Homo sapiens: one gene and its partners. The protein of the gene in region 3 purifies or fractionates together with the protein of the main gene of each other region. This does not show direct contact. Each region holds a gene or a part of one and is shown on either strand. Other genes may lie near its edges.

Region 1 (7,211 bases), on a different chromosome or scaffold from region 3:
TGGAGAGATAAGAAAAACAGAAACAGAAACATTTATCAGGATTTTACTTTCTGAGATTGTGTTTCTAGTGATATACAATACCTCTTAAAAAAATACATGAAAAAAATGTACCTGACACCAATTCAGCCACAAAAGGAAATTAAAAAAAAATGTTAATTGAGCAGCCAACTGATGCCACGTACCACCTGAAGCACATCTATAGTCTATAAGCCTGAAAGGTACCCGACATCACCATGTTCCAACTACTAAATGGCAGAGTCAGGACACTTACCAAGGACTACCTAACAGCAAAGCATGCTTTGTGATTTACTGTATGCTTGAGCCAAATTATTTAGCTCTTCTCAGCTTCCGTTTTCTCAGGTGCAATATAATTAACAGTGCCTATCTCAAAGAGTTGTTGTGAGAATTAAATGAGATAAGCATATAAATACTTGCCACAGCATTTGTATAGAGTCAATATAATTATTCAAATTTCCTCACAACATTTAATTATGTTGACAAATCACAACTGATTAAGCCATTCTTTTAAAAAATGATATTTGGGTTATTCCCAACTTTTTGCTCCTATAAATGATGCTACAAACAAACAGCATTTTTGCAAATATAACTTTTATTTTCTGAGGCTTTAGGATAATTTCCAAAATACCAGCTCATAAAGTATTAGTGTATTTGTGCCTCTTGCTACAAGTTACATGGAAATATTTTAGATTGAGTTGCTGAGAAGGGGGAAGAAGAAAAGAGAACCCTACACATTAAATGTCCTACAGTATGTACATTAATACATTTTTCTCTATAAGACCTCAGGCTACTCTCTCAACTTTGAACACCATCAGTTCTGGTGTCAAAGTCAAGGTGTAGGTCACCCAACATGCTGGGTTTTTAAATCTGGCTTTTCCAGATCAACCTGCCACCATTTAATGAAAAACTCCACAGGAAAGATGAAGGAATGTTCAAGGTTTTCCTCCTCATGCACCAAGCTGATCCTTTGTATTCACATATCCAAAAGGTATGCAAATTGGCTAAAATGAAAGGGCTGATTGAACTTTGGCAGTCAAAACTCATCTTTGCTGATAACATGACGTAGACTTAAAAGAAGCATATGCAATTGATATTGTATGTATATCTTCATGTTTTAACATCATCTATTATCAGAATAAAAAGCCTTTGAAAATCAAATGTGATCTTTCTCTAAAGAGAAATCTCGACAAGTTAATAGGCATTACAAACTGAATTTAAAAGCAAATAAGAGTTTTAAGTGAGGGTGGAGGGGCAGGTAAAAATGCCACTGATTAATATTTACCTTGAAAATGGCTTGCTTTTCTTGCTGTTGCCAAGAATGGTAGTTCCTGCTGGCCCTAGTTTGGCACTCTCTCGTAACCAGTTGGCAGGTGGGAGTTTCAAGTCTGTTTTCTCTTCAAGGCGTGCAAATGCTGTTCGAGGAGGGGCAGAAGAGTATTTCACCACAGCTCGGCTCTTCACTTCATTGCCTCCAAGAAATAAAGCTGATCCCTAATTAACACATTGGGTGAAACTTTAATGAAAATTACTAAGAACGAAAAATCTCACCTTTATAAAAAGAAAACAAGAACCTGTCACACCAGGCTTCACAAGGAACGTATGCCACATGTTACTAACAGCACTTAATAAATTTGAGCATAAATGGTAACATTTACTTAGTTCTTTTACACCAACTTCAAAGAAAAAAGATGAGTCAAGGAGTATGATGGTTATGGTTATCAGCTAGAAAATGGACCACCCACATCTCTTTTAAAATGTATTCATGTAAAGTGGAGAAGCAGAAACCAAGGAGACTCAATGGTATCATGTTAACTAGATGCAAACTTTAGTAAAGCCTATTTTCAGTATTAAAGATGTATTTTAATTCTTTTTTTTTTTTTTTTTGAGACGCAGTCTTGCTTTGTCGCCCAGGCTAGGGTGCAGTGGAGCAATCATGGCTCACTGCAACCTCGGCTTCTGGGGTTTACGCCATTCTCCTGCCTCAGCCTCCCTAGTAGCTGGAATTACAGGCGTGCACTACCACGTCCGGCTAATTTTTGTATTTTTAGTAGAGACAGGGTTTTGCCATGTTGGCCAGGCTGGTCTCGAACTCCCCGACCTCAGGTGATCCACCCACCTCGGCCTCCCAAAGTGCTAGGATTACAGGCGTGAGCCACCGCGCCCGGCCAAAGATGTATTTTAATTTTAATAACACATCATTCATAAAATAGTCTGGTAGAACATTTGGGCTTTTTGTTTTAATGCAAATATTTAGTAATCGATGCATCGGTTCATGCATGCATGCATGGTTCAAATACTCTTGAGTCTCTAACTTCATAGAAAGGCATTGGGGGTTCGTTCCTCACAGCCTGCACTTGCACACTCCCAAAGCAAGTTCGGCGTCTGGGTTCAATATTCTAACCTTTCACGCAGTACCTCTTCTGCATGGCAAACATTTTACACCCTTTGTGAATTAGTTCGGTCTCATTCTCGGCGAGTCACTACCTGGCACCGTTTCTTCCCTCCTGCTTTGCACGACTGTGCCACGTTTTGGAACGACATATTTACATGTACCCTCCTTGAGAGGAAAGATCGTATCTAATTCACCTGTCGGCTACCAGAACTGCTTTTAATACGAATACCTGCCGACTGGAGCATGGACTTCAACTCCCTGTTTTGGGGGTGTCAGGGAAACATGGAGAAGCCTCCAGAATCTGCCGGGAACCGTGGCATCCCTCCCCGGTGGAGCGGGTCCTCCGCTCCCACATCCCTGGCAGGTCCCCCTCCGCGGAGGACTCACCTGTGCAGAAGATTCCTCGGATTCTCCCTGGGACAGGAGGCTGAGCCCTCCTCGAGCGGCGGCCCCGGCCGGCGGACCCTCGGCTCCGGCCTCCTTGGCATCCCCCATCACTTCGATCCAGGGCAGGCGATACGACGGGGGAGCGGAGGAGCAGCAGCAGCAACGCAGGCCCAAAGCAGGGTAAGCGCCAGAGACGCTCCGCGGACCGCACTTCCGGTCTCTGCCAGGAAGAAGTAGCTGTGACTCGCCATTAAATCTCGCGATCTTTGTCCCGAAGGCCCGGCCCCGCCTCCCGCTGCGGGTGCCACCTTCGCGGCCAGGGCGGGAATTGTAGTGCGCCTGCGCTTGTCCGAACCTCTTCGGGAGACTACTTCTCGCGGTATCTGACTCCTAGGCTCCGCCCTCTGCACGCCGCTCACGGTATCTGACGCTCAGGCTCCGCCCCCTGCATGTCTTTGTTGGCAAACAGTTCTGGGGGTCGTCCGATCCTGCAGGTAGTGTCCGCGTGGGAGGGGAGGTGCAGCCGTCAGCGCTGCCGGCGGCTCCCGTTACGTGAATTAGTGAGAGGTTCAAACTTCTTCCCCAGGCTTCAGTGTCACATCTTTTCACACGGGCACCCCGAGGGCCCGGACTGGAAAGGCGAGCCAGCCATCTCGAGACTGGGCGCTCCTGCCCGCCTTTTAGTGCCCATGTGGCCCCATCCTGGGTGTGGGAGCGGCGGGGCTTCCGGGGAGGGCGCTGGGACGCGCGGACGAGGCCCTCCCCGTTTAGGGAATGGGTGGCTTTCGGAGTCTTCTGGGGGCCCGGCATGCCCGCTGCTTGCGGGGCGTCCCAGGTGGTGCAGGACCCGTGAGACGCTGAACCTGGGGCCTCGTAACGCCTAGGTTTCCATTCGGGCGCTCTGGATGGGTCCGAGACTCGGCATTTCTCACAGGTTCCCAGGAAACGATGCCAGCGCTTTGAGTAGCGAAGAGGTGGAGAAATAGCCCGGGCCGTTTGCAAGCTTTGAAGGTCCAGGCTCTCTTTCACACTCCTCAGTGTCATCTCAAACTGTCAAACGCAGCCACATCCGTTATACAATACATGTTTTGTAGTAAAAGTGTTTTGTTGTGCCGTAAGATACAGAAAGTGTTTTTAAAAATTAACTTGGCTCTTGCAATTTGGCTGTCTCAATTTGTAATTCACGTTTGGCTCTTACAACTCACTGTCCTGTCCGTTTTCAGGAATGCTCCTGATGAGTAAGCATTCAACTCACAAATTGCTTTCAAATGTAACAAAACAATTTTATGAATTAAATTTAACAGGCCGGGCGCGGTGGCTCACGCCTTTAATCCCTGCACTTTGGGAGGCCGAGGTGGGCAGATTGCCTGAGGTCAGGAGATCGAGACCAGCCTGACGAACAGGGTGAAACCCCATCTCTACTAAAAATACAAAAATTAGCCAGATGTGGTGGTGGGCGCCTGTAATCCCAGCTACTAGGGAGGCTGAGGCAGGAGAATCGCTTGAACCTGGGAGGCAGAGGTTGCAGTGAGCAGAGATGGCAACACTGCGCTCCAGCCTGGGCGATAGTGAGACTCTGTCTTAAAAAAATAATAATAGTGAATTAAATTTAACAGTTAATTTGATATAATAGTGTATTTTGTAGACATTTACTTCAACATGTATTGATTTTGATTTTTATCATTTCATTTGAATATTGCAGCCAATAATTCTTTTTTGGTTTTTGCAAGTTATGCATTGTTTTTTATGGTGAAAAGTTGAACATAATATCTAACACTAGGAGGAGGATAGTCAAATTTGGTTTTGGTAGAAAATAAACCCTGTGCAACCATAAACTTGTTTTTCAGGAATATTTAAGAACATTTAAATTGCATATCATATAATGTTAAGTGATAAGTGAAATTTTAAAAAGCCAATATGCAGCCTAGCGCGGTGGCTCACGCCTGTAATCCCAGCACTTTGGGAGGCAGATGCGGGTGGATCACGAGGTCAGGAGATCGAGACCATCCTGGCTAACACGGTGAAACCCCGTCTCTACTAAAAATACAAAAACAAAATTAGCCAGGTTTGGTGGCAGGCACCTGTAGTCCCAGCTACTCAGGAGCCTGAGGCGGGAGAATGGTGTGAACCCAGGAGACGGAGCTGGCAGTGAGCCGAGATTGCACCACTGCACTCCAGCCTGGGCAGCAGAGCGAGACTCCGTATAAAAAAAAAAAAGCCAATGTGCAATATGATCTTAATTTTAAAAACGTCTCCATTTCTGTCTCTGTGTCCACAAAACAGACCTCTGAGCCGTAAAATGAAGTGATTTAAAATTTATTCTTTACATTTATTGATTTGCATATATTGAACTAGCCTTGCATCCCAGGGATGAAGCCCACTTGATCATGGTGGATAAGCTTTTTGATGTGCTGCTGGATTCGGTTTGCCAGTATTTTATTGAGGATTTTTGCATCAATGTTCATCAAGGATATTGGTCTAAAATTCTCTTTTTTGGTTGTGCCTCTGCCCGGCTCTGGTATCAGGATGATGCTGGCCTCATAAAATGAGTTGGGAGGATTCCCTCTTTTTCTATTGATTGGAATAGTTTCAGAAGGAATGGTACCAGTTCTTCCTTGTACCTCTGGTAGAATTCGGCTGTGAATCCATCTGGTCCTGGACTCTTTTTGGTTGGTAAGCTATTGATTATTGCCACAATTTCAGAGCCTGTTATAGGTCTATTCAGAGATTCAACTTCTTCCTAGTTTAGTCTTGGGAGGGTGTATGTGTCGAGGAATTTATCCATTTCTTCTAGATTTTCTAGTTTATTTGCATAGAGGTGTTTGTAGTATTCTCTGATGGTAGTTTGTATTTCTGTGGGATCGGTGGTGATATCCCCTTTATCATTTTTTATTGCATCTATTTGATTCTTCTCTCTTTTCTTCTTTATTAGTCTTGCTAGCAGTCTATCAGTTTTGTTGGTCCTTTCAAAAAACCAGCTCCTGGATTCATTAATTTTTTGAAGGGTTTTTTGTGTCTCTATTTCCTTCTGTTCTGCTCTGATTTTAGTTATTTAAACAGAACCAAAGACAAAAACCACATGATTATCTCAATAGATGCAGAAAAGTCCTTTGACAAAATTCAACAACTCTTCATGCTAAAAACTCTCAATAAATTAGGTATTGATGGGCTGTATCTCAAAATAATAAGAGCTATCTATGACAAACCCACAGCCAATATCATACTGAATGGGCAAAAACTGGAAGCATTCCCTTTGAAAACTGGCACAAGACAGGGATGCCCTCTCTCACCACTCCTATTCAACATAGTGTTGGAAGTTCTGGCCAGGGCAATTAGTCAGGAGAAGGAAATAAAGGGTATTTAATTAGGAAAAGAGGAAGTCAAATTGTCCCTGTTTGCAGATGACATGATTGTATATCTAGAAAACCCCATTGTCTCAGCCCCAAATCTCCTTAAGCTGATAAGCAACTTCAGCAAAGTCTCAGGATACAAAATCAATGTACAAAAATCACAAGCATTCTTGTACACCAATAACAGACAAATAGAGAGCCAAATCATGAGTGAACTCCCATTCACAATTGCTTCAAAGAGAATAAAATACCTAGGAATCCAACTTACAAGGGACGTGAAGGACCTCTTCAAGGAGAACTACAAACCACTGCTCAATGAAATAAAAGAGGATACAAAGAAATGGAAGAACATTCCATGCTCATGGGTAGGAAGAATCAATATCGTGAAAATGGCCATACTGCCCAAGGTAATTTACAGATTCAATGCCATCCCCATCAAGCTACCAATGACTTTCTTCACAGAATTGGAAAAAACTACTTTGAAGTTCATATGGAACCAAAAAAGAGCCCGCATTGCCAAGTCAATCCTAAGCCAAAAGAACAAAGCCGGAGGCATCACACTTCCTGACTTCAAACTATATTACAAGGTTACAGTAACCAAAACAGCATGGTGGTACCAAAATAGAGATATAGATCAATGGAACAGAACAGAGCCCTCAGAAATAACGCCGCATATCTACAGCTATCTGATCTTTGACAAACCTGAGAAAAACAAGCAATGGGTAAAGGATTCCCTATTTAATAAATGGTGCTGGGAAAACTGGCTAGCCATATGTAGAAAGCTGAAACTGGATCCCTGCCTTACACCTTATACAAAAATCAATTCAAGATGGATTAAAGACTTAAAACGTTAGACCTAAAACCATAAAAACCCTAGGAGAAAACCTAGGCATTACCATTCAGGACATAGGCATGGGCAAGGACTTCATGTCTAAAACACCAAAAGCAATGGCAGCAAAAGCCAAAATTGACAAATGGGATCTAATTAAGCTAAAGAGCTTCTGCACAGCAAAAGAAACTACCATCAGAGGGAACAGGCAACCTACAAAATGGGAGAAAATTTT
Region 2 (7,035 bases), on a different chromosome or scaffold from region 3:
AAGAAAAGCAGTGAAGGAGGAAGTGAGTACAGGTTGGGAGGAAACAAAATTGGCCATGTAATGCTGAAGTATAGTGATGAGTGCAGAGATTAATCATACTATTCTGCTTAAATATATTCTAATTTGCAGATTTATGGGGGGTTTTGTGAGAATGTACTTATCAGTTTCCCAGTAATTATGTTCTTTATTTCTGAACCGGAGTCCTTTATTTTTTAATTGTTTAGAATTGGAGAAAGAAATTGAAGAACTCAGATCAAAACCTGTTACTGAAGGAACTGGTGATATTATTAAGGTAATTATTACGTTGGGAAATGTCTAAAGAGAAATAAAATTTCCCTGAGGATTGTCAGTCTGCTAGAGGCTATCTGGCTTTCTGTTTCTGTTCTACTTCCTCTCTGCCTTGGTTGTTTTTACCTATCTGATTCACTGTAAAAAGAGGGGGTTAATGACCTCTGGGTCTCTTTCTGTTCTGAAATTATTATTCTACTCTCTTCCCACGTATTTTCTTTTTTCTTTCTTTTTTTTTTTTTTTTTTTTTGAGATGGAGTCTCACTCTGTCACCAGGCTGAAGTGCAGTGGTGTGATCTTGGCTCACTGTAACCTCTGCCTCCCGAGTTCAAGCAGTTCTCCTGCCTCAGCCTTCCAAATAGCTGGGACTACAGGCGCCCGCCACCACACCCAGTTAATTTTTGTATTTTAAGTAGAGACGGGATTTCACCATGTTGGCCAAGATGGTCTTGCTCTCTTGACCTCACGATCCGCCCGCCTCAGCCTCCCAAAGTGCTGGGATTACAGGCGTGAGCCACCACGCCCAGCCCATATTTTCTAATTATGGTTGTTACTTCATTCTCTGCTCTTCCCCAGCCCCCTGAAAACCTGGCCATGCTCAGGACTTAAGTGATTTTAGGTGTACAGTATATAATCTATAGATAGATCCATATCCCTGGACATGTCTACTGACCCAGATCTCACAGTTGTGTTTCCCTCTCACACATTTCACTTATCTCATCAAACTCAACCAAATTGCTTCCCTTGGTTAGACCAGTGGCACCACAGTTTTTTATACCTTTTGACTTTAGAGACACTTTAACTTCTCTGTTTCCTTTATTCTCTATATGTGTCAGTCACCAGAGACCTATTATAGCTTTAAGATATTGTTCCAGTTTATCTTTTTTCTCTCTATTTCTATGGCTTTATGTTAAACACATCAAATACTTAACCTATTTCAATAAAAACCTCACTGGGTTCTCTTTCTCTTTTTAGTCTTATATAATACTGCCAGATAACAAAATATTGTTTTTATTCCCCGTTTAAAAACCTGAGTTGCAGGCCAAATGCAGTGGCTCACACCTGTAATCCCAGCACTTTGGGAGGCCAAGGTGGGAGGATCACTTGAGGTCAGGAGTTTGAGATCAGCCTGGCCAGCATGGTGAAACCCTGTCTGTACTAAAAATACAACATTTAGCTGGGCGTGATTGCCCACACCTGAAATCCCAACTACTCAGGAGGCTGAGGCACGAGGATTGCTTGAACCCAGGAGGCAGAAGTTGCAATGAGTTGAGATTGAGCCACTGTACTCCAGCCTGGGCAACACAGCAAGACTCCGTTTTTAAAAAAAAAAAAAAAAACACAAAAAATCTGAGTTGCTTATTCTTATTTCCACTCCCTTAATGCTAACAAATGCTTTTTCATTCCCTCACTTTCATTGCCCGCCTTAGGCCAAGCTTCTGTAAAGTTTCTTTTACATCTCAGAGCTCTGAAATACTGTTTTCACTGCTTTTGCATAATATCCGTTGGTTATATATTTATTTATTTTTATTTATTTATTTATTTTGAGACAGAGTCTCGCCTTGTCGCCCAGGCTGGAGTGCAGTGGCACAATCTCGGCTCACCGCAAGCTCCGCCTCCTGGGTTGACGCCATTCTCCTGCCTCAGCCTCCCAAGTAGCTGGGACTACAGGCACCCGCCACCATGCCTGGCTAATTTTTTGTATTTTTAGTAGAAACAGGGTTTCACCACGTTAGCCAGGATGGTCTCGATCTCCTGACCTCGTGATCCACCTGCCTCGTCCTCCCGAAGTGCTGGGTTTACGGGCGTGAGCCACTGCGCCCAGCCTGGTTATATATTATCTTATTTTCTCATCAGTGGCTCCCCACTTGTGAGCAGTGAACTACTGAGGGACTCCCAGAGAGTTATTACAAGGGGTCTTTAAATCCATATGCATGTCACACAGTATCATTTTGTTCTTTATTTAGTTACAGTGTATGAAGCTAGAATGATGTGCACAAATGTCATTTCATTTTATAATGTACTGTTTCATTTAAGTATTACTGAGTTCACAGTAGTCTTCTTTGTATATTTAGTCATTATATGTTTTCTTAATCCATGATAGCCACAGTACAACTATATGTTAATTAAGGAAGAAGGTCGATAACACCCAGACTGCCTGAGTCAGGCTTTCAAATCCTTGTTCATCTACTGATCAGCTGTGTGACCTTGACTAAGTTTCTTAAATTCTTTCTCTATGATTCAGTTTTGTCATCTGTAGAACAGCGATAATAATACTTTCTGTTTGTAGGATTGAGGTACAAACAGGATTGATGTAGAAATGTAGGATTGATAAGGTAATATATCTACTGCACATAGAACTGGGTTGGTCACATAAGTACCCAATAATTGTTAGTTATCATTGTTATTACTACCATTTATTATTTCTGGGGGATTTTTTTTTTTCTTGAGATAGGATTTCTCCCTATCGCCCAGGCTGGAGTGCAGTGGCGTGATCTCCGCTCACTGCAACCTCTATAGAGTGTTAGAAAACACTCTAGAAAGTTTTTTATCCATTAACTCTTATAATACTTTTTACAGAATTGCATTTCAGAATAAGAACATTTAAATATCTACCTGCTGTTTCCTCCTTATCACTCATCAATGTATTCTCCCACTGTCAAAACTACTCCTAAAGACAAGATTAGAAAATTTCAGCCAGGCTCGGTGGCTCACATCTGTAATCCCAGCACTTTGGGAGGCTGAGGCGGACAGATCACCTGAGGTCAGGAATTGGAGACCAGCCTGGCCAACTTGGTGAAACCCCATCTCTACTCAAAATACAAAAATTAACCAGGCATGGTGGCACGCGCCTATAGCCCAAGCTACTTGGTAGCTGAGGCAGAAGAATCGCTTGAACCGAGGAGGCAGAGGTTGCAGTGAGCTGAGATAGTGCCACTGCACTACAGCCTGAGCAACAGAGTGAGACTCCGTCTCAAGAAAAAAAAAAAATTCTCCAAGTTAGCCAACTTTACCTTTAAGGTTTTTTTTCTTTTCCTTCTTTTTTTTTCCTGATCCATTATATTTATACGTATTCATGGGGTACATGTGAAATTTTGTTAAATGCACAGAATATATAATCATTAAATCAGAGTATTTACTATCCACAGCCAGGTATTTATCATATATATGTGTTGTGTACATTTCAAGTCTTCTGGCTATTTTGAAAAATATTTATCTTTCCCTGTCTTAGATTTTACTTAACATAATGACCTCCAGCTCCATCCATATTCCTGGAAATGGCGTGATCTTATTCTTTTTTATGGGCATATAGTATTCCATTGTGTATATATACCACATTTATCCATTCATCCTTTGATGGGCACTTAAGTTGATTTCATGTATTTGCTATTGTGAGTAGTGCTGCAATAAACACAGGAGTGTATATATCCCTTTGTTATATTGATTTGTTTTCAATGACTACCAATATTGGGGTTTTTGGATTGTATGGTAGCTCTATTTTTAGTTTTTTGAGAAATCCCCAACTGTTTTCTTTTTTTTGAGACGGAGTCTTGCTCTGTCGCCCAGGCTGTAGTGCAGTGGCATGATCTTGGCTCACTGCAAGCTCTGCCTTCCAGGTTCACACCATTCTTCTGCCTCAGCGTCCTGAGTAGCTGGGACTACAGGCGCCGGCCACCAAGCCTGGCTAATTTTTTGTATTTTTTAGTAGAGATGGGGTTTCACCATATTAGCCAGGATGGTCTCGATCCCCTGACCACTTTGGGAGCCAGCCTCGGCCTCCCAAAGTGTTGGGATTACAGGCGTGAGCCACCGCTCCTGGCCTGAGAAATCCCCAACTGTTTTGTATAGTGACTATGCTTACCTACACTTCCACCAACAGTGTAGAAGAGTTCTTTCTCCACATTGTCATCAATATCTGTTACTTTTTTTCTTCTTAATAGCCATTCCTTATTGTGGTTTTGATTTGCATATCCCTGATGATTAGTGATATTGAGTATTTTATCATATACTTCTTGGCCATTTCTTTGTCTTTTAAGAAATGTCTATTCATGTCCCTTGCCTATTTTTTAATGGGGTTATTTTTTAATGTTGTGTTGTTTGAGTTCCTTGTATACTCTGGGTATTAGTCCCATATTGGATGAGTAGATTGCAAATATTTTGTCCCATTTAAGAGGTTGTCTTCTTCATGCTGTTGATTGTTTCTTTTGCTATGCAGAAGCTTTTTAGCCTATAATCTCAGCATTAAGGGAAGCCATGGCAGGAGGATCACTTGAGCCGAGCAGTTTGAGACCAGCCTGAGAAACATAGCAAGATCCGTTTCTACAAAAAAATATAAATTAGCCAGACATGGTGGAACATGCCTGTAGTCCCATCTTCTTGGGATGCTGAGATAGGAAGATCACTTGATCCCAGGAGGTTGAGGCTGCTGTGAGCCATAATCACACTTACTGCACTCCAGCCTGGGTGACAGAGGGAGCCCTTACATAAAAAAAAAAAAAAAAAAATTTAAGATGCCTTTCAGTTTAATGTAGTCCTATTTGTCTGTTTTTGTTGCCTGGGCTTTTGAGATCTTAGCCATAAAATCTTTGCCTAGACCAATGTCTTGATGCATTTGCCCTGTGTTTTCTTCTTTTAGTTTTACACTTTTGGGTCTTATATAATATAAGTCTTTAATCTATTTTTGTTGATATTTGTATCAACTAAATGGTGAGAGATAGGGACTCACTTTCATTCTTCTGCATATAGTTACCTGGATTTCCTGGCACCGTTTGTTAAGAGGGTGTCGTTTGCCCAGTGTGTGTTCTTAATGGCATTGTCGAAGATCGGTTGTGTATAAATATGAGGATTTATTTTTGGGTTCTCTATTTTGTTCCATTGGTCTGTATGCTTGTTTATATACCAATACTTTGTTGCTTTGGTTTCTATAGCCTCGTAATATGTTTTGAAGTCAAGTAGAATGATGCCGCCGCTTTATTTTTTAACTCAGAATTTCTTTAGCTTTTCTGGCTTTTTTTTTGGTTTCATGAAAACATTAGGATTCTTTTTTCTGTTTCTTTGAAAAATGGTGTTGGTATTTTAATAGGGATTTCATTGAACTGTACATTAGTTTGGATAGTATGATCATTTCAACAATATTTTGTGAGCATGAAATGTCTTCCTGCTTATTTGTGTTCTCTTCAGTTTCTTTCATCTGTGTTTTTGTAGTTTTCATTATAGAGATCTTACACTTCTTTGGCTTTTGTTTGAGCTACTGTAAAAGGTGTTGCCTTCTTGATTTCCTTTTTTAGCTATTTTATTGTTGGTATATAGAAATGCTACTGGTTTTTGTATGTTGAATTTGTATCCAGCAACCTTACTGAATTTATCAGCTCTAAGAATTTTTTGATAGTCTTTTGTCATCTGTAGAGAGGGACAGTTTAACTTCCATGTTTCCAGTTTGGATGTCGTTTATTTCTTTCTCTTGCCTAATTGTTCTGGCTAGGACTGTCAGTCCCATGTTGAATAGTAGTGGTGAAAGTGGGCATCTTTGTCTTCAGTTCTTAGAGGAAAGATTTTCAGCTTTTCCCCATTTTTGTGTGATGTTAATGTGAGTTTGTCATATGTGGCCTTTATTATTTTGAGGTATAATCCTTCTGTGCCTAGTTTGCTAAGAGTTTTTATCCTGAAGGGATGTTGAATTTTATGAATTCCTTTTTCTGCGTCTAGTGAGATGACATACGACTTTTGCCCTTTATTCTGTTGATGTGATATGTCACATTGATTTGCATATATTGAACCATCCTTGCATCCCTCGAATAAATTCATTTGATCATGGTGTATTATCTTTTCAATGTGCTGTTAGATTTGGTTTGCCAGTATTTTGCTGAGGATTTTTGCATTGGTGTTCATCAGGGATATTGGTTGTTGCTTTCTTTTTTTTTTTTTTTTTTTTGCTGTGTCCTTGTCTGGTTTTGGTATCAGGGTAGCACCAGCTTTCTAGAATGAGTTAGGGAAAATTGCCACCTCTTCAGTATTTTGGAGTAGTTTCAGGAGGATTGGTATTAGGTCTTTATACATTTGGTAGAATTCAGTGTGCATCCATCTGGTTCTGGGCTTTTCTTTGTGGGGAGACTTTTTATTACTGATTCGTTCTTGCTACTCATTATTAATTTGTTCAGGTTTTCTATTTTTTCCTGGATTTTTCTTTGATAGGTTGTATGTTTCCAGAAATTTATCCATTTCCTCTAGGTTTTCCAGTTTGTGGGTGCATAGCTGTTCATAATATTCTCTGATGGTCTATTTATTTCTATGAGAATGGTTGTAATGTCTCCTTTTTCATTTCTGATTTTATTTAGGTCTTCTTTTTTGTTGTTGTTAGCCTAACTAGTAGTTTATCAATTTTGTTTATCTTTTTGAAGAACAAGCTTTTCATTTTGTTGATCCTCTGCCTTTTTTAAAAGTCTCTATTTCATTTAGTTCTGCTTTGATCTTTATTAGTCGTTTCCTTCTGCTAATTTTGGGTTTGGCTTTGGCTTGTTCTTTCTGGTTCATTGAGGTAAATCATTAGATTGTTTGAAATCTTTTTACTTTTTGGATGTAGGCGTTTATTGCCATAAACTTAGTATTCATGTCCTGCTTTTGTTGTATCACACAGGTTTTGTGATACAAAAAATCACATAGGTTTTGTGATACAAAAGCACTGCTTTTGTTGTATCACATAGGTTTTGGTATGTTGTAGTTTCCATTTTCATTTGTTCCAAGAAATTT
Region 3 (7,397 bases):
TTATTAAGTTCATGCATACCCACGACTGAGCAGTTCCACTCATGGATACATAGCTCGGGGGAATATTCCACAGGTCCATAAAGAGAGATGCATGAGGAAGTTGATCAGTGTTCTTTGTGGTGGTGGGGAGAGGAGGCAGCCTGGGTATCCACCCCTTGGGAGAGTATGTGTGCCGTGGAGCCCTGCACAGCAGTTCGGGGCTGCCAGATGGGACCTAAAACCCAGTGCTGAGGGGAAAAAGTGTATCAAGAATGTATACACAAAAGTTGGCCAGGCGCGGTGGCTTACTTCTGTAATGCCAGCACTTTGGGAGCCTGAAGCGGGTGGATCACCTGAGTCAGGAGTTCGAGACCAGCCTGACAAACATGGTTAAACCCCGTCTCTACTAGAAATACAAAATTAGCCAGGCGTGGTGGCGCATACCTGTAATCCCAGCTACTCAGGAGGCTGAGGCAGGAGAATCGCTTGAACCTGGGAGGCGGAGGTTGCAGTGAGCCAAGGTCGCGCCATTGCACTCCTGCCTAGGCAATAAGAGTGAAACTCCATCTCAAAAAAAAAAAAAAAAAAAAAAAAGAATGTACACACAAAAGAATTCACATTTTGGAAGAACACTTAGAAACTGAGAAGACACAGTAAACACACTAGAGGCCAGGTGTGGTGGCTCATGCCTGTAATCCCAACACTTTAAGAGGCCAAGGTGGGAGGATCACTTGAGGCCAGGAGTTCAAGACCAGCCTGGGCAACATAGTGAGACCTCCATCTCTATAAAACAAAACAAAAAAATGCTAATAAAACATGCTAGAATGATTGATTAGGGTAAGGAGGAGGGCTTTGGGGTATAAAAGGGAGTAAATAAAAAAGGAAGCAGAAGAAGCTCACTATGTCATGGAGTGAAAGGGCTGGATGGCAGGGTGGACAAGAGCACCATCAGGGAGACTTAGCCAGAAACTGCTGAGAGAACAGTGACCAGACCTTGCAGCACAAAATGGAGAGGATGGCCAGGCCTGCAGGAGACTGAGGAAGGGGATTTTCAGAGCCTAGTGGTTGACAGAATGGAGGAGGGAGGAGGGAGAGGGAGGAGCTGAGTTTGGCACCCAGATTTCTGGGTGGATGACTAAGCCAATGGAGCCCACACTAAGTGGTGAACCCAGGACCAGGAGCAGGTTGTGGGGCAGGGGATGAGTTCAATATGGGCATGGTAAGCTTGAGGGACTGTGCAGCAAGCTAGTGGAGATATCCACAGGGCAGTTGGCTGCCGCTGTGGTCTGAATGCTGTGTCCCTGCAAATTCATATGAAATCCGAACCCCCAAGGTCATTATATTAGGAGGTGGGGGCCTTTGAGAGGTGATTAGGGATTAGTGAATGGGATTAGTGCCCTTATAAAAAAGAGCCTTCAGAGAGCTCCCTCACTACTCACACCATGGGAGGACACTGAGAAGATGGCATCTGTGAACCAGAAAGCAGGCCCTCACCAGACACCGAATCTGCCAGGCCTTGATCTCGGACTTCCCAGCCTCCACAACTGTGAGAAATAAATGTTTGCTGTTTACACACCAGAGTTGATGGTATTCCGTTATAGCAGCCTGAATAGACTATGGCGGGCACAAAGGGACACGGGTGGAGCTCAGCTGAGGGACCTGAGAAGGAAGCAGATTTGGGATTCATCTGTGTGTAGGGGCTGGGGTACAATTTCCCTGGGAGAGTATGTAGAGTGGGCAGAGACATCAGCCTGTGGAGCACCTAACTTAAGCTCCTGTTGGGGGTGAGGAACCCATGATGTTGACCACACAATCATCTTCTAATAAATGGTAGCCCAGGCCATTGGTATTCTGGGCCTGAGAGAGAGAGTAGGAAATGGGGAGATTCATTTGCACAATCCTTTCCATCACTGAGAATGTTCACAAACATTGCCTCCTTGGAGTCTTACAGTAGCCCTGTGGATTATGGGGAAGGCAGAATGGATTATGGGGAAGGCAGACTGGATTATGGGGAAGGCAGACTGGATTATGGGGAAGGCAGACTGGATTATGGGGAAGGCAGACTGGCTTTATTGCCCACATTCCACAGATGAGGACACAGCTTAATGAGGGATGGGCCTTGCCCAAGGTCATGCAAGGTAACTAATGGAAGTGTAGGTCCCGAAGATCTCCAGACTCCTATACCTGAACCCTTCCACCCAGAACCACTTCTGCTTTCATGGGCTAGGACCCAGGTCTAGGGTGGCCTTGACAGATGACAGCTGCTATATTTTGGGTCTGGGTGGCCCCTAAGCACAGCAAAGGCTGATCGACTCAGTTATCGGCCAAGACCACTAAGTAGTTTTGAGTTGGAAGGTTCAGAGTGTGCTGGGCAAGTCACTTTGCTTCTCTTAGGTTCCCCTATTGTTACCTATAAAATGGGTTCATACCTCACAGTGTTCTTATGGGAATCAAATGAGAAAAAAAAGAAAGCAAAAAGACTCTGTAGGCTCTGGACTCAGTAAAGGAAAAGATGATGAAGAGGAGAATAAGGGAGGGAACCAGGATTAGGGAGCAGGGCTGGAGGAGGAAGTGTGGAAAAGGAGGTTTGGATTTGGAGGGAAGGGAGTGCTAGGACCAGATGTTCTGCTGGGTGTGGAAGAATCAGAAGGGAAAAGATAAAGTCCTGGCACTGGAAGGCTCATGGTCCCCATGCGCCATCCTTAGCCATGCTGTCTCCATCCCCATATCAAAGAATGACTACCCTGCCAGCTCCACTGCTGGGCTTCAGATCTCTGTCTTACCTTGGTCTCTTATCAGCATCCTCCTTGTCAATCTCTTAACCAACCTCCCCCCATCAATGCTTCACCTGGCAGCCCAGGCCTTCCTAAGACAAATGTGCTCACGGCCATTGCTCCTCTTAGGTCTTTTCAGTGACTCATTATCCTCTGCAGGACCAAGGTCAGTGAGGCAGGCAGGCCTTCTGGCCCCTACCCACTTGCCGGCCACACCTCTTTTTTTTTTTGAGGTGGAGTCTTGCTCTGTGGCCCAGGCTGGAGTGCAGTGGCGCAATCTCGGCTCACTGCAACCTCCACCTCCCGGATTCAAGCGATTCTCCTGCCCCAGCCTCCCCAGTAGCTGGGACTACAGGTGCGTGCCACCACGCCTGGCTAATTTTTTGTATTTTTAGTAGAGACGGGGTTTCACTGTGTTAGCCAGGATGGTCTCGAACTCCTGACCTCATGAACTGCCCGCCTCAGCCCCCCAAAGTGCTGGGATTACAGGCGTGAGCCACCGTGCCCGGCCCTGGACACACCTCTTAACACTTGCAGTACCCAGCATGGCGGGCCTGTGCACACCTCCATGCCTCTCTCCACATATGAGCTCCCACTGCCTAAAACGCTGAGTCCTCTATCCATCTGCAGAGACCTTCCTCAGCTCTGATCTCAGCTCTGCATCACCTTGAATCCCACCCCTCTGAGCCTTCACTGAGCAGACCTGTGACCCAATGCCAGTTTAGATTGGTGTGCTTCCTGTCTGCTTTTCATTCCAGACCAGGCTAGGAGCTCCCCAAGGCTGTAGCCCCGGTGCAGGGACCTGCAGCCATTTGCTGGCCGGTAGAGAGGCTGCAGGAAGCCACAGCGGCTGCCTAACCAGGCCTGCAGCACCTGGACCGAAGACCCTTTTCCATCTGAACTGTGGGAGTTAGGGGTGGCTAAGCTCAGAGACAGAGGTCTGATCAGTCTCTCCTTTCCTCGAAACTCTCCAAAAGGTCCCATACCACTGAGGAAATAGCCAAATCCTCATAGTCACAGCCCTTTTGTCCTCCCACCTCATCATCTCCTTGCCCCCTTCCTCACTCTGCTTCAGCCCCACTGGCCTCCTTGCTGTTCCCCAAGCACAGAAGACTCTCCCGCATCAGGCTTCCGGACTGTTCCCTGTTCCTTCCATGGGAATGCCTTTCCCAGACCCCTCCTAGTCACTCCCAGGCCTCTGGCAGAATGTCTACCCATCCTGTTTAAAACTTTTCCCCAATAGCTCTTGCTACCCCTGACAAACTCTTACATCTCAACTATTGTCGTTTCCTCCCCACTGCCTTAGCAACTCCTAGAGGGCAGAGATTTCATCTGCTCTGCCCACCGCTATATAGCCAGCCACTAGAACAGGCCGGAAGCGCAGAAAGAGCTAAGTAAGTATGTGTTGACTGACTGACGAACAAATGAATGAAGTGAGATGGGGGCTTTGGGGATTCGGGTTCACGCACCACCCCAAAAGCATTCGAAGGCCGGGCGAGGCCAGGCACTGCCGAGGAGGGCGGGCCGGGGGAGGAGCGTATTGGCCACGCCCGGCCACGCCCCCAGGCCGGCGGAACCCAAGGCGCGGGGACCTGCGCTGCCGGGAGGATTGAGGGAAGGGAACCCGCGCCGCCGGAAGGAGCCGCTCGCTTCACGGCGCTGGGACCCGGGCTGGAAGGCAGGGCATCAGCTATGGAACAACCTGGGCAGGATCCCACCTCAGACGACGTCATGGACTCGTTCCTGGAAAAGTTCCAGAGCCAGCCTTACCGTGGCGGCTTTCATGAGGACCAGTGGGAGAAGGTGGGCGGTCCTGGGGTCTCCCCACGTGTGTAGGGGCGTCGTCCGGACTCGTGGGGCACCCGGGCTCTGGGGCACCTCCTTCAATCCCAGATCCCTGGCGCTGCCAGCCGATCGCTGGTTTCTAGTTGAGTATTGAAAATCGGCCTCGAGGTTTTGAGTCGCTTCTTAAGCTGAGAACCTAGGTTTTGGAGTCAGGCCTGTGACTCCACCACTTAACTGGCTCTGATATGAGTCAGTTACTTAACTTCTCAGAGTCCGTTTCCTCATCTGTAAAACTGCGCGAACTATATCACCAATAGCAAAGATGAAATGAGACAGTTGGTAAAGTGCCAAGAACATAAGGGCGCTCAATTAATGGTAATTCCTGCCGCTCTTGTAGAATGTGAGAACTAAAACAATCATTAGAGACCATTACACCACACTCCCATTTTACAGAAGGGAAGCGGAGGCCTGAATGGATACAGCTAGCTGTGATGATTTGCAAATCATGATGAGTAAAAAAACTTTGGTAATGAGTCATGGAATTGGATCTGCTCAGTAGAAAAGCTTATTCATGTAGTTCATTCTTAACCATTTACAGGAATTTGAAAAGGTCCCCCTATTTATGTCGAGAGCGCCATCAGAAATTGATCCCAGGGAGAATCCTGACTTGGCTTGTCTCCAGTCAATTATTTTTGATGAGGAGCGTTCTCCAGAAGGTATCTTAACATGACTAATATTTGTTTTGTGTTTCCATTGAACTGAAATTAAGTGTGGGTTAGAAGCGTTCTGATTGATAACAAGAAGTAGTTAGCCTGAGCTAACTTGTCATTATTCATTCCAATATACTTCTTTTTGTACCTACTAAGTGGTAAGGACTGGGGATACAGGGGTGAATAAGACACAGTTCCACCCTCCAAGGTCAGGCTCAGTGAGAAGCCTTTTGTCTTAAAGAATCAAGACAAACTTATGCTATAAGTGTCAACATGTAGGTGTATACTACAGCTGTAGTGGGTCCTGTTGGAACACTTTAAGGAGCAGGAGTGGATTCACAATAGATAGGAAATTTGAGCTGAATCTTTGTAATTTTGTAGGCTTTTACTAGGGTGAGGAGGGGAATTTGCACTCCACAGAATAAACAACATAAGCAAAAGCAGAAGTATAATCAATCCCCCTGCCCCTCACTGATTTCTTCAGTGATTAAAAAAAATTCTTTTCTTCAACAGCTAGGATGAGTGTACTTTTTTCCTTTATACTTCTTTTTTTTGGAAAGCACTTAGTAATCTACCTTGTAAGATATTTGGAATTAGCATTACATTTGTGCGACTTTGTCCATGTTGATACCCACTTTTATCATAACATCGAGTTTCCTTTCCCTATTGGTTTCTTCGCTTTGGTGTGTCATATAGTACATTATTACATGATTTAGAATCTATTTTTAATGAGCCTTTTAAAAAGTAAGCAATAGTGATTATTTTTCCTCTTCTTTGCAGAACAGGCCAAGACCTATAAAGATGAGGGCAATGATTACTTTAAAGAAAAAGACTACAAGAAAGCTGTAATTTCATACACTGAAGGCTTAAAGAAGAAATGTGCAGATCCTGATTTGAATGCTGTCCTTTATACCAACCGGGCAGCAGCACAGTACTATCTGGGTAATTTATAAGTGCTTTCTGAAGAATAAACTTATGATACAAGCCATTATGATGGTTAGTGGAGGTTTGAGAACATCAGAGGATGAGGGGCTGTTATCCCAGAAACCCAGACTAAGGATAGTTTACTCTGATTGAACTCTGGTCTTCCAAGTTGACATGATGAAAAGAGAAACAGGATGGATTGTGTAATTCTTACTGTCTCAACCCAAAAAGTGACTTGGTCACTCAAGTAAGGTGTTTGATGTATGAGGCAGTATGTTCTGAGATTTTTGAGCCCAAGGGCTTCTACTCTCTCAAAAAATGTGTTTTTCTGGCCTTTTATCCTCTTTTCAAGGATGCTAGCAGGAGTAAGGCAGTAGAGATCTTTAGGTGAGATAAGCTATTTTAATCTAAGGGAGAATATCTCAAAGCGTTCTGTGGGACCTTTGAGTTAAAAATATTTTTTGGTTGGGTGCAGTGGCTCATACCTGTAATCCAAGCACTTTGGGAGGCTGAGACAGGAGGATCGCCTGAGGCCAGGAGTTCAAGACCAACCTGGGCAATATAGTGAGACCCTGTCTCTCCAAAAATTTAGCTGGGCATGGTGGTGCCTGCCTGTAGTCCTAGCTACTTGGGAGGCTGAGGCACGAGGATCGCTCAAGGCTACAGGGAGCCATAATCACACCACTGCACTCCAGCCTGGGTGACAAAGTGAGACCCTGTTTCTAAAAAGTTGCTTGGATGAGGAATTTTAACTCATTTATTTATTCATATTTTTTACTTTATTACATTTTTTTGTAGAGACAGGGTTTTGCCATGTTGCCCGGGCTGGTCTCGAAATTGGGCTCAAGTGATCCATCCGCCTCAGCCTCCCAAAGTATTGGAATTACAGGTGTGAGCCACCGCACCCAGGAGATTGAGGAAGTTTGGAAAATGCTGCTTCTTAGAGATTTACAGTACATGTTAACATGTTAAAGACACTGAGATAGCCTGCAAGAAAATAAATTTACCCTGGGTTTCTCAAATTTTGTAAGCCTCCTCTTCAGGTAACACCAACATCATGCAGGTTCTGTAGTCGTAAATTTGGGAAATGATTATTTAAGTAGTATTGCTGGTGACTAGTCTTGGTTATGTTAGACCTGTGGGTTTTTTTTAAAAATAATTTATTTTTTTAATTGAGACAGGGGTCTCGCTATGTTGCCCAGGCTGGCCTTGAACTCCTGAGCTC

Evidence for each region. The genes of interacting proteins can lie anywhere in the genome.
Region 1: the proteins of TTC4 (region 3) and EDRF1 purify together in Homo sapiens (affinity purification with mass spectrometry; 5 studies listed by BioGRID and IntAct, with this or other methods). This does not show direct contact.
Region 2: the proteins of TTC4 (region 3) and GCC2 purify together in Homo sapiens (affinity purification with mass spectrometry; 4 studies listed by BioGRID and IntAct, with this or other methods). This does not show direct contact.

The regions. Positions count from the first base shown.
Region 1 is NC_000010.11:125,715,502-125,722,712, reverse strand, and holds the start of EDRF1 (erythroid differentiation-related factor 1), read right to left. Parts: upstream 3,005-7,211; 5' UTR 2,906-3,004; coding exon 2,798-2,905; intron 1,510-2,797; coding exon 1,301-1,509; intron 1-1,300. UniProt on the Homo sapiens protein: Transcription factor involved in erythroid differentiation. Involved in transcriptional activation of the globin gene.
Region 2 is NC_000002.12:108,452,175-108,459,209, forward strand, and holds part of GCC2 (GRIP and coiled-coil domain-containing protein 2), read left to right. Parts: intron 1-224; coding exon 225-292; intron 293-7,035. UniProt on the Homo sapiens protein: Golgin which probably tethers transport vesicles to the trans-Golgi network (TGN) and regulates vesicular transport between the endosomes and the Golgi.
Region 3 is NC_000001.11:54,711,464-54,718,860, forward strand, and holds the start of TTC4 (tetratricopeptide repeat protein 4), read left to right. Parts: upstream 1-4,397; 5' UTR 4,398-4,445; coding exon 4,446-4,556; intron 4,557-5,136; coding exon 5,137-5,254; intron 5,255-6,028; coding exon 6,029-6,190; intron 6,191-7,397.